Regions from separate parts of the Homo sapiens genome. Here regions 2 and 3 are each linked to region 1. Evidence: fine-mapped expression QTL. A gene starts in region 1. Each other region holds a variant in brackets. All regions are shown on one strand. Distances are from middle to middle.

Region 1 (4,189 bases):
CACTCCAGCCTGAGCAACAAGAGCAAAACTCTGTCTCAAAAAAAAAAAAGTCAAGACCAACCTGGGCAACCTGGTGAAATCCCACCTCTACCAAAAATACAAAATTAGCCCGACATGGTTGTCCAGGCCTGTGGTCCCAGCTACTGGGAAGGCTGAAGTGGGAAGATGGCTTGGAAGGTCAAGGCTGCAGTGAGCTGTAATAGCACCCTGCATGCCAGCCTGAGCCACAAAGTGAGACCCTGTCTCAAAAAAACAGAATTTGTAAAATGTGTCTCACTATAAATGCTCTATCCGTCAAAAAACACAGCATAGGTGTCCAAAACACAGCATCATTGCCCAAAAACTTTATTCAGGTGTACTTCTAGGAAGGAAAATTTAAGATTTGAATAAAAATTTTCTATATTGGGACATAGAAATTATCAAATTTTGATAGTTTATCATCCAATTCATAAGAAATTCCAATTCATAAGAAATTCATTGGCCTTCAAAATGCCAATGAACATGGGATGACCTTAAAATCAGTATCTGGTTTGACACGCATTGTATTCACTCCCTAAAAAAGCAAGACATGCAACTTGGCTCTTCTTTAAAAGTCTAGGGCCAGGCGCAGTGGCTGACGCCGGTAATCCCAGCACTTTGGGAGGCCGAGGCAAGAGGATCACCTGAGGTCAGGAATTTGAGACCAGCCTGGCCAACATGGCGAAACCCCGTCTCTACTAAAAAATACAAATTAGCCGGTGTGCTAGGGTGTGCTTGTTATCCCAGCTACTCAAGAAGCTGAGGCAGGAGAATCAATCGCTTGAACCCAGGAGGCAGAGGTTGCAGTAAGCTGAGATGGCACCACTGCACTACAGCCTGGGTGACAGAGCAAGACTCCGTCTCAACAAAATAAAAAGTAAAAAAATAAAAGTCTGGGAATAAACAGCATTCTCAGAGTAAGTACACTACCTCAGAATCATCACCACTGCTTCTAAAGTCTCCCTTTCCAAGTGTGACATTCGTTTCTCTACAAAATGCACTTTAGCAGATGTTCAAATTTTCGTCTCCCTTTTGGTGGTAGTCCTTTCCAACAGACTACTAAAAACATATGCATCGCTTAATGCCAGATTCAGAAATGCGAAGGGACATGGAGCCACCAAAAAAGAATATAGACTGTTTTGTCCTGGATTCCTTACCACGTGAAATGGGGAAAAGTCGGCCACTTCAAAGGCCAGAAAAGTATCTTACTAGTGTCCTCGGCCTTCTTGTATATCCAAAAACCTCATCAATTGTTAACAACCAGAAATAAACTAAGAGGCTCCCCAAAAGTGACTTGGCACCGCCACCTCTTCAGCCACCTAGGCTGGTGGTGGCCTGCCGCGGCCACCCCACAGGCGCTGCAGCAGCCCCGCCACTCCCGCATGGTCAGCAACGGACTCCGCCATCTCCTCCGCAGACAGCTACCGGGCGGCGGCGGCAGGGCCCGAGCCTTCTGGCTCGGGGTGCAACGGGCCCCGCATCCCTCCCCATCTAAAGAGGCAAGGCGACCCCCAGCCTCCCCACACTGGCGCCGCGTTCCCGAGCCCGTCTCCACGCCACAGGAAGTCTCCAAACACTGCGGCAGACAGGCGGCTGCAGGCCAGGGGAGAAGAGGGCGCTCCACTCTCCCAAACCCACCCCCGTGGCCCCGGGAACCCCGGGAAGGGCGCGCACCGCCCCCGCCCCCGCCCCCGCCCCCACCCCGGCCCAGATCTCGAGGGCGCGGCCGCCGCCCTGCCCCGCCCCGCCCCGCCGAGTCAGCAGACCCCGGCCCCAGGCGCAGGCGGCGGCCGAATGACACTTGAGAGAGTGAGAGCGGAATCACATGACAGTCCGGGCCACACGCACTTTCTCCCACATGCGCGGCCCACACCCCCCGCGCCCCGCCGCGGACCCTCCGCGTCCCTCCCGCGGCCGCGGCACGGGGCGGGGGCGCCGGCGGTTGCGGCCCAGGTGGGGGCGGCGGTGACCGTTGGGCGCAGGCCGGCGCGCCCCGGCGGGCGGTTGGGTGTTTACCTTGATGCACCGCGACGCTGCAGCCGTGCCCGTCGCAATAAACCAGCGGGTTCTCGGCCCAGCCTCTCTCGTCTGAGCAAACGCAACAGCCTCCAATCATCTCCTTCATACTATGGGAGACCTCGTCCTCCAGTGACACGGGCCGGTCGCTAGAGACCATCTAAGAGGGAGTTGGGGGGACCATTAAAAAACACATGCAAGCCGATTAGTGCTTCCCCCCCACACAGCCCCCCGAGCCCGCCCCGGCGCCCCCCGCCCGGCCCGGCAGCCCACCGCTCGCTCACTCGGGCTTTGCCGCTCAGTCACTCACGTTCCGCACAGGAGTCAGGAGCCATGTCCTTGCTGATTCCCCCCACCTCCCCTCCACCGCCTCCTCCGCCTCCTCCTCCTCCTCAGCGTCTTCCCTCCCCACCTCCACCCGGCCGCTAACGCGGGCGCCCGGAGAGGGCACACATAATCAAGAGGGCCTCCGCACAGGCGCACTGGGGGGAGGGGGGGCTCCCGCTGGGCCAGGGGCAGCGAGGGAGGGGAAGGGGGCTGCGCTTCCTCCTCGGAGCGTCACTTGGCGTGCGCGCCCGTCCTGCGGCCGGCGTGAGGGAGGAGGCCTGGGCGAGGCTAGCCCTGCGTGCGCGCTGCCGCGGCCTGTTGGCTGCCCCCGGCCTACCTCCGGGGCCCCGTCCCCCTCCCCCGCGCCGCTCGCCGCCGCCGAGGTGTGCTGGGGGTGGGCGCGAGGGGAGCCGGCGGCGCGCGGAGGCCGGAATGAACGGGCGCGGGGGCGCGCACGCGGGGGCGGGGACGTTAGGGCCGCCCTCTGCAGCGCTGGTGGCGCGGGCCGCGTGTGAGCGTCGGGAAGAGGCCTGGGAGGTGGCGGGGGAGGTGGACGCCCAGGGCTGGGAAGGGGTTTTCTCAGAATCGCCAGAGGGGAGTCCCCGGGGGCATCATCTCCGTGCCCTGGGAACCTACCTGCTGGCCTTTTCCTCCAAGACTGGCCCGTGGAAAACGAGGGTGGGGCGAGTGTGCCAGCTTCCATGAAGGGTGTAATGAAGCATGGCTTCCTGCAGTTGGCCGCGCTAACTTCACAGTGCTGCCGCAGCCACTCCACCCATTAAATTCACGTCCTGGACTCTTCCCAAAGTTCACCCGCTGGAAGTCCTACCAAATCTGCCGCCCATTTTCGCACTACGTGGGCCCCAATGACAAACGAAAGTGTATTCCAGGCTGAAGGTCAAAAGCCTGTGTTAGGGCTGCACTCGGAGAGGGAACGCCAAGGCGCCCCTCAGCTCGGTGTGCAGGACAAATGGTGGTTTATCCGGAATTAGCAATATAATACGATGATCCGGAAAATGCAGTTGTATTACACCAAAAGGAAGAAGGAACTCTAGCCCTCCTAGTCAGTCGCTAAAACATAATTAACGCCATCAGACAGTGGCGTCCAGTTTTGATGGAGGATTCCTCTGATCCGGGTCTTTTCTCCAAATTTATACTTGGAAATGTGAGGTCATTTAAAAGTGGCAGAAAGATGAGAGCTCCCACCTCACAAACAAATGGAAAATGGATTAGGCCTATCTGCATAGATTAATTAGCTGGATGCTGAGCACTTTTAAACTAAAATCTTCCACTGTCTGCCTATTCCTTATGCATCCGTAAAGCCCAATATTGATGTTTAAGCAAAAAATGTCTAATTAGAAAAGTTTCGCATGAAATCAGAATTATGCATAGATTGTTTAAATGACAAGCCCAGTTAAAAGGCGAATTCATGACTTTTGATTAATACCTTGCAGGTACAAAATGGTTCTTTATCAGCAATTCGCATTATAAATGTGCTGATCTGGAAGATGCACTTTCACAGTGCTAAAGCATAGAGAACCCAAGTTCTCCTAGTCGGTCGCCAAAAGATAATATAATGGTTTGGGCTTTAAAAGCCTTCTAAATGTTCTTCTGATAAAGGGGGGTTAGAAAAGGTATCATGGCTGTTTTTCTATTTCAAATTAATTGCTAGAAATCTGTGTAAGAGTGATAATAGGTATACAGCACAATGAGAGCATATATAGCAAATTCAGATGTTTTAAAAGCTGAGATATACAAAGTAATGGCAATTAAAATATACACTAAAACAATGAGAATTCACATAGTGCATTTAGAAAAGGTGACTACA
Region 2 (4,189 bases), 300 kb before region 1:
ATTTTTATGTGTGAATTAGATCCTGTCATTATGATGTTAGCTGGTTATGTTGCTCGTTAGTTGATGCAGTTTCTTCCTAGCCTTGATGGTCTTTACAGTTTGGCATGTTTTTTGCAGTGGCTGGTACTGGTTGTTCCTTTCCATGTTTAGTGCTGCCTTCAGGAGTTCTTTTAGGGCAGGCCTGGTGGTGACAAAATCTCTCAGCATTTGCTTGTCTGTAAAGGATTTTATTTCTCCTTCACTTATGAAGCTTAGTTTGGCTGGATATGAAATTCTGGGTTAAAAATTCTTTTCTTTAAGAATGTCGAATATTGGCCCCCGCTGTCTTCTGGCTTGTAGAGTTTCTGCCGAGAGATCCGCTGTTAGTCTGATGGGCTTCCCTTTGTGGGTAACCCGACCTTTCTCTCTGGCTGCCCTTAACATTTTTTCCTTCATTTCAACTTTGGTGAATGTGACAATTATGTGTCTTGGAGTTGGTCTTCTCAAGGAGTATCTTTGTGGTGTTCTCTGTATTTCCTGAATTTGAATGGTGGCCTGCCTTGCTAGATTGGGGAAGTTCTCCTGGACAGTATCCTGCAGAGTGTTTTCCAACTTGGTTCCATTCTCCCTGTCACTTTCAGGTACGCCAATCAGACGTAGACTTGGTCTTTTCACATGGTCCCATATTTCTTGGAGGCTTTGTTCGTTTCTTTTCATTCTTTTTTATGTAAACTTCTCTTCTCGCTTCATTTCATTCAGTTCGTCTTCCATCTCTGATACCCTTTCTTCCAGTTGATCGCATCGGCTACTGAGGCTTCTGCATTCGTCACGTAGCTCTCGTGTGTTGGTTTTCAGCTCCATCAGGTCCTTTAAGGACTTCACTGCATTGGTTATTCTAGTTATCCATTCGTCTAATTTTTTTCAAAGCTTTTAACTTCTTTGCCGTTGGTTCGAATTTCCTCCTTTAGCTCGGAGTAGTTTGATCGTCTGAAGCCTTCTTCTCTCAACTCATCAAAGTCATTCTCCATCCAGCTTTGTTCCCTTGCTGGTGAGGAGCTGCATTCCTTTGGAGGAGGAGAGGTGCTCTGATTTTTAAAGTTTCCAGTTTTTCTGCTCTGTTTTTTTCCCATCTTTGTGGTTTTATCTACCTTTGGTCTTTCATGATGGTGACGTACAGATGGGTTTTTGGTGTGGATGTCCTTTCTGTTTGTTAGTTTTCCTTCTAACAGACAGGACCCTCAGCTGCAGGTCTGTTGGAGTTTGCTGGAGGTCCACTCCAGACCCTGTTTGCCTGGGTATCAGCAGCGGTGGCTGCAGAACAGCGGATATTGGTGAACCCCAGACGCTGCTGTCTGATCGTTCCTCTGGAAGTTTTGTCTCAGAGGAGTACCCGGCTGTGTGAGGTGTCATTCCGCCCCTACTGGGGGGTGCCTCCCAGACAGGCTTCTCGGGGATCAGGGACCCACTTGAGGAGGCAGTCTGCCCATTCTCAGATCTCAAGCTGCGTGCTGGGAGAACCACTACTCTCTTCAAAGGTGTCAGAGTGGGACATTTAAGTCTGCAGAGGTTACTGCTGTCTTTTTGTTTGTCTATGCCCTGTCCCCAGAGGTGGAGCCTACAGAGGTAGGCAGGCGTCCTTGAGCTGTGGTGGGCTCCACCCTGTTCGAGCTTCCTGGCTGCTTTGTTTACCTAATCAAACAACTAACTTGGCAATGGCGGGTGCCCCTCCCCCAGCCTCGCTGCCACCTTGCAGTTTGATCTCAGACTGCTGTGCTAGCAATGAGCGAGACTCCATGGGCTTAGGACCCTCTGAACCAGGTGCGGGATATAATCTCCTGGTGTGCCGTTTTTTAAGTCCGTTGGAAAAGTGCAGTATTAGGGTGGGAGTGACCCGATTTTCCAGGTGC[C/T]GTCTGTCACTGCTTTCTTTGACTAGGAAAGGGAATTCCCTGACCCCTTGGGCTTCCAGGGTGAGGCGATGCCTCGCCCTGCTTCGGCTCGCGTACGGTGCGCTGCACCTACTGTCCTGCACCTACTGTCTGGTACTCCCCAGTGAGATGAACCCGGTACCTCAGTTGAAAATGCAGAAATCACCCATCTTCTGCGTTGCTCACGCTGGTAGCTGTAGACCAGAGCTGTTCCCATTCGGCCATCTTGGCTCCTCTCCTTAGTCCACATTAGGTCTTTTAAACAACGTTTCACTGGGGAGCCCCTCTTTCTTTCTTTCTTATTTTTTTTTGAGATGGAGTCTTGCTCTGTCGCCCAGGCTGGAGTGCAGTGGCACGATCTCAGCTCACTGCAAGCTCCACCTCCCAGGTTGACGCCATTGTCCTGCCTCAGCCTCCCGAGTAGCTGGGACTACAGGCGCCCGCCACCGTGCCCGGTTAATTTTTTGTATTTTTAGTAGAGATGGGGTTTCACCGTGTTACCCAGGATGGTCTCGATCTCCTGACCTCGTGGTCCGCCCACCTCAGCCTCCCAAAGTGCTGTGATTACAGGTGTGAGCCACCGCACCTGGCCTGGGGAACCCCTCTTTCATAAAGTATTTTTTTTTACAAACTTACCCTACAGTGATCTTTCCCCTGTCTGATTTCTAGTAGCACATTTCTGTGCCACTTAATCTTGTATTTGGTTGTATAATGCTTTACATTATATAGTATTTTGTTGGTGGTAATTTTTTTAATAAAAAACAGTTGCCATCTATCTGCTGGTGGAAGAGTGTGAGTGGGTGGTACAGTGATAAATAAGACATACTGAATTTTGTCCTGAATATTAGCTAACATTTATTAAGTGGCTACTGTGTGCCTGGTACTGTTCTGCGCACTTCATGTGTATTAACTTATTTGATTCTCACAGCAACTCCATTTGGTAGATGCTATTATTTTCTTCATTTTACACAGGAGAAAACTGAGAGGCAAGGTAAATTCTCCCACACTGCTTAGCTAATACATGACATAGCCGTGATTCACACCCACTTCACTGGTTTCAGAATTCATGCTTTTTTAAATTTATTTATTTTTATTTTATTTTTTGTGTCAGAGTCTCACACTGTTGCCTCAGCTGGAGTGCAATGGCACCATCTCGGCTCACTGCAACCTCCGCCTCCTAGGTTCAATTGATTCGCCTGCCTCAGTCTCCCAAATAGCTGGGATTACAGGCGCCCGTCACCATGCCCAGCTGATTTTTTGTATTTTTAGTAGAGATGGGGTTTCACTGTGTTGGCCAGGCTGGTCTCAAACTCCTGACCTTGTGATCCACCTGCCTCAGCCTCCCAAAGTGCTGGGATTAGAGGCCTGAGCCACTGCGCCCAGCCAGAACTCATGCTCTTAACCACTGTCACTATATCATGTAGTTGAAAAGGTCAGACAAAGAGCTAAATAAGCATATTTTGAGGTGTACTTTGTGAGAGGTTTAAAGTACTATTGCAGTTTAGCAGATGGCAAGATTACTTCCACCTAGGAAAAAACCAAAAATTTTTATGAAAGATTTAGAAGTGGGGTGGGGAAAACATTCCAGAAACTAAGGAATAAATCACTCTTGAGACAGAACTACTCAGAGCATATCATCAGGAACAGTGAGTAATTTAGTTTAGCTGGGTCAAAGGATTCTTGAAATGATAAAGAGAAAATATGTTTGTAAAAGTAGGTCGCAGCCAAATCATAGATCTTGAATGAGAGGTTAGAGTGTTTAAATCATACAGAAGGTGAAGTGATGTTGTCCACATATTAGAAATATTTCACTGCAAAAGTATATAAGATCAAAGGGAAGAGAAGGACCCATTAGAAGATTTTTGCAATAGTCTTAGTAAGAGATAATAAATTCCTGAGTGAAGTAGCTAACAGAAATAGAGACCAGGGGAGAGACTGGACAAATCTTGAATGTTCAGGATTCAAGAAATCAGTTGATTGGATAATGCAATAAGGAGGAGGAAGAAGTAAAAATGCCTACTTGGTGATTGGAAGAGACAGTTACCATTAAAAAAATATGGGGCATGGTTAGGAGGTGATAGTTTGGCAGAGAGAATGATATGTAATCAGTTTGGTATGTGCTAAGTTTATGATGCAAATGGGACATACATCAGGAAACATTCAGCAGATAGTTGTTAATGTAGAATTTAAGAAATCAGAACTAGAGATGTAACTACTGGGGACCTTGACATACATTTGATGGCTAAAACCAGGGAAGCACATAGAAGAAAAACATCTAGGAGAGA
Region 3 (4,189 bases), 91 kb before region 1:
GAGATTGTCACTAGAAACCTCATGGCCCTTAGCAGGCTGCTACTAAAGGCTTAAACCAAAGTGAGAAAAAGGTAACTGAAAATTGGAAGAAGCTGAATACTTCATAATTAGTAACTGAAAGTTTAGGCACAACCTTGCCTGTGGTAACATGAAAAATAGAAAATGTATTTAATGAGTTGCATAATTTAACAAGGAGATTTCTAGGTATTCGGTGGAAGATGCAGTCTAATTATTTCTTACTGTTTATAGTAAAAAGCAGGAGTACAGAAATAAGTTAATGAAAAGACTGTTGACCAAAAAAAAAGAGCCAAGACTTGCTGGTTTTAAAAATTTCCAGTCTCTGCAGATAGCAAACAATGCTCAAATCAAAGAATGGCTCCCAGAGAAAGATAAAATCTAGGCCACTGTTAGAAAACAGCTGTATGAAGATTTAAAAAAGAGTATGGCTACAAACCCCTTTTTTAAGACCTAAGAAAGACAGAAGGCAATACCTCAGATAACCTGAAATAGGACTTTAAGAGATGTCAAGGTCACAAAAGACAATGAATAAGGACATATTCCAAACTGGGAAATACTGAATAGACATGACAGCTAAATGCAACTTGTGATCTTGGATTGGATCCTGGACATGGAAGAGAAAAATGTTTCCCCCTTTGGTGTAGATGACATCAGTGGCTGCAATTTGAATATGATCTGTAGATTAGATAATAATCTGTAACAATATTAATTTATTGATTTTGATCACTGTACTGTAATTGTTTAGGAAATTCCCCTTTTAATTAAAACTATACACTTTAGTACTTGGGCTAAAGAGGCATTGTTATTTGTAATTTACCCTGCAATGGTTCAGAAAGATTCTACAGAGAGTAGAGGAGAAAGAGAGTGAGAGAGATAGCAAAGGAGGGTAGAGCGAAGGACATGGTAACATTAATATGGTAAAATGTTAACATTTTTGGAATGAGTGAGTAGTACAGCATTATTATTTGTAGTATTTTTGCAACTTTAAGTTTGAAACTATTGAAAAAACCAAAAGTTTAAAAAAAAAAATTAATCCTACTGGCTGCCTGGCTCAATGCCCAAGGACGAAGTCTAAAACTCTAACTGCTTATAAATTCTTCATAAACTAGCCTCTTCTTAGCTAGTCTCATGTTACCATACTCTTCAGTCTCACCCAACACACCCTCACATTCTAAACTGATGTTCCTGAAAAGACCTGTCCTCTCTTAACTCTTCACATATACAGATGCTGAAAGGTTCAACTTGAGCACAAAATTCCAAAAGGAAAGTACACAAAAAGGGCAGGTACCAGGTAACTCTCAATGCTAGAAAACTTTTACAAAGACAAAGAGAAGTCATTCCAATGATATGACTGAGAGTTTTATTCCTTTGAGGGCCACAGAAGAAAGTAGTCTAGCTCTCTTCAAAGAGGTGAGTAATCCTATTCTATGGTTTAAGTGTGGTGTGTTCCTGCCAAAACTCATGTTGAAATTTGCCAATGTGACACTATTGAGAGCTGATGGGGCCATTAAAAGGCGTTTGGGTTACGGGACTACTACCCTCATGAATGTATTAATGCAGCTTTCATGAGGCTGGGTTGATTCTTGCAGGAATAGATTAGAAGGCTGCCTCTCATGTTTGGTCTCCCGTTCTGCACACGTACCTGCTTCCCCTTCAGCTTCTTTGCCATGTAAACATAAGAATCATAGACTTGGGGGGTGGCACGCGTGCGAGATTTCTAGTCATTTTCAAAATGCCTTGCACTGGTTCTCACGGGCCCAGCCACCAGCCCCTGCTCTGCCCTGGATTGATAGCTTGTATCGATCTTGATGAAAGAGCAATTGATGCTCTCAGGGAATTTAATAAAGAAGGAGCTCTGTCTGTACTACAGCAGTTCAAGGAAAGTGACTTATCACATGTTCAGAACAAAAGTGCATTTTTATGTGGAGTTATGAAGACCTACAGGCAGAGAGAGAAACAGGGGAGCTAGGTGCAAGAGTCCACAAAGGGACCTGATGAAGTGAAGATCAAGGCCTTGCTTGAGAGAAA[T/C]GATTATACTCTGAATGTAACCACAGGACAGAGGAAGTATGGTGGGCCTCCACCAAACAGTGTGTACTCTGGTGTGCAACCTAGAATTGGAACAGAGGTGTTTGTAGGTAAAATACCAAGAGATGTATATGAGGATGAGTTGGTGCCCCTTTTTGAGAAGGCCAGTCCCATTTGGGATCTACGTCTTATCATAGATCCACTGTCTGGTCAGAATAGAGGGTAGGCATTTACCACTTTCTGTGGAAAGGAAGCTGCACAGGAAGCTGTGAAACTGTGACAGCTATGAAATTCGCCCTGGTAAACAACATGGAGTGCGCATTTCTGTGGCAAACAACAGACTTTTGTTGGATCCATTCTGAAGAATAAGACTAAAGAAAACACTCTGGAAGAATTCAGTAAAGTCACAGAGGGTTTGGTGGACGTCATTCTCTATGATCAACCTGATGACAAAAAGAAGAAATGGGGGTTCTGCTTCCTTAAATGTGAGGATCACAAGTCAGCAGTACAAGCCAGATGCTGGAAAAGTAAAAGTATGGGGAAATGTAGTTACAGTTGAATGGGCTGACCCTGTGAAGAACCATATCCAGAAGTCATGGCTAAGGTAAAAGTATTCTTTGTGAGAAACTTGGGCACAGACGAAATATTGGAAAAGTCATTTTCTGAATTTGGAGAACTCCAAAGAGTAAATAAGTTGAAAGATTATGCATTTGTTCATTCTGAAGACAGACGAGCAGCTGTTATGGCTATGGATGAAATGAATGGCAAAGAAACAGAAGGGGAAGAACTTGAAATAGTCTTAGCCAAGGCACCAGACAAGAAAAGGAAAGAGCGCCAAGCTGCTAGACAGGCCTCCAGAAGCACTGCATATGAAGATTATCACTACACCCTCCTCCTCGCATGCCGCTTCCGATTAGAGGTTGGGGGAGAGGTGGATATGGCTAACCTCCAGATTACTATGGCATGAAGATTACTACAGTTATGATTACCACATCTATCAAGGAGGTTACGAAGATTCCCTACTATGGCTATGATGGTGGCTATGCAGTAAGAGGAAGAGGAGGAAGGGGAGGGCAGGGTGCTTCACCACCACCAAGGGGGAGGGGAGCACCACCTCCAAGAGGTAGAGCTGGCTATTCACAAAAGGGGGCACCTTTGGGACCACCACGAGGCTGTAGGGGTGGCAGAGGGGGTCCTGCACAACAGCAGAGAGGCCGTGGCCGTGGTTCCCGTGGATCTCAGGGCAATCAGGGGACAATGTAGGACGCAAGAGAAGGCAGATGCTTACAACCAACCTGATTCCAAGCATCGTCAGACCAACAAACAACAGAACTGGGTCTCTCAACCCATCGCTCAGCAGCCGCTTCAGCAAGGTGGTGACTATTCTGGTAACTATGGTTACAATAATGACAACCAGGAATTTTATCAGGATACTTATGGGCAACAGTGGAAGCAGACAAGTAAGGGCTTGAAAATGATAATGGCAAGATACGACTGGCTCTAGATCTACATTCTTCAAAAAAAATTTTGTTTAACTGTTTCATCTTTAAGTAGCAATTTGCTGCCATTTGTATTGGGCTGAAGAAATCACTATTGTGTATATACTCAGGCCTTTTTATTTTTCCTCTTTTCATAAATGCTCTTGGACATTATTGGGCTTACAGAGTTCCCTTATTCTGGGAGTTATGTTTTTATCATTTCGGGCTTCATTTTAGCTTCAAAACAAGCTGAACACACTGTTAAGTCATGATTTTGCAGAACCTGTGGTTTTGAAGAATTTCATTTTTTTGGATCTAGGATAGATTACATAGGAGTATGGAGTATGCTGTAAATAAAAATACAAGCTAGTGCTATGTCTTAGTAGTTTTAAGAAATTAAAGCAAACACATTTAAGTTTTCTTATACTGAAAATAACCTATGATCGTATGTTTTGCATTTTTAGAAGTAGGTTAACTGTGTTTTTAAATTGTTATAACTTCACACCATTTTGAAATCTGCCCTACAAAATTTGTTTGGCTTAAACGTCAAAAGCCATGACAATTTGTTCTTTGATGTGATTGTATTTCCAATTTCCTGTTCATGTAAGATTTCAATAAAACTAAAAAAATCTATTAAAAAAAAAGAACCATAGATTAAAAGTCAACAT

What was found. PIP is the estimated chance that this variant, and not a neighbour inherited with it, causes the effect. A credible set is the group of variants that fine-mapping cannot tell apart.
Region 2: its variant is the best candidate, but not a certain one, in a credible set for the expression of MLLT10 in whole blood (INTERVAL, PIP 0.54).
Region 3: its variant is the best candidate, but not a certain one, in a credible set for the expression of MLLT10 in whole blood (INTERVAL, PIP 0.77).

Annotation. Positions count from the first base shown.
Region 1 is chr10:21,532,650-21,536,838 of GRCh38, reverse strand. It overlaps MLLT10 (MLLT10 histone lysine methyltransferase DOT1L cofactor), which reads right to left and starts at 2,607. Exons shown (of 23, transcript NM_001195626.3): 1 at 2,319-2,607; 2 at 2,035-2,194. The coding sequence starts at 2,194. RefSeq lists enhancers at 120-633, 897-1,609, 2,325-3,038 and silencers at 1,670-1,759, 1,900-2,239, 2,350-2,419, 2,430-2,959.
Region 2 is chr10:21,832,290-21,836,478 of GRCh38, reverse strand. The region is part of intron 8 of DNAJC1 (DnaJ heat shock protein family (Hsp40) member C1); the gene reads left to right. Among named protein-coding and RNA genes, the nearest start is that of DNAJC1, 170 kb to the left of the region's middle. The variant C/T (reference allele first, on the strand shown) is at 1,887.
Region 3 is chr10:21,623,899-21,628,087 of GRCh38, reverse strand. The region is part of intron 8 of MLLT10 (MLLT10 histone lysine methyltransferase DOT1L cofactor); the gene reads right to left. It also overlaps the pseudogene HNRNPRP1. Among named protein-coding and RNA genes, the nearest start is that of MLLT10, 92 kb to the right of the region's middle. The variant T/C (reference allele first, on the strand shown) is at 2,047.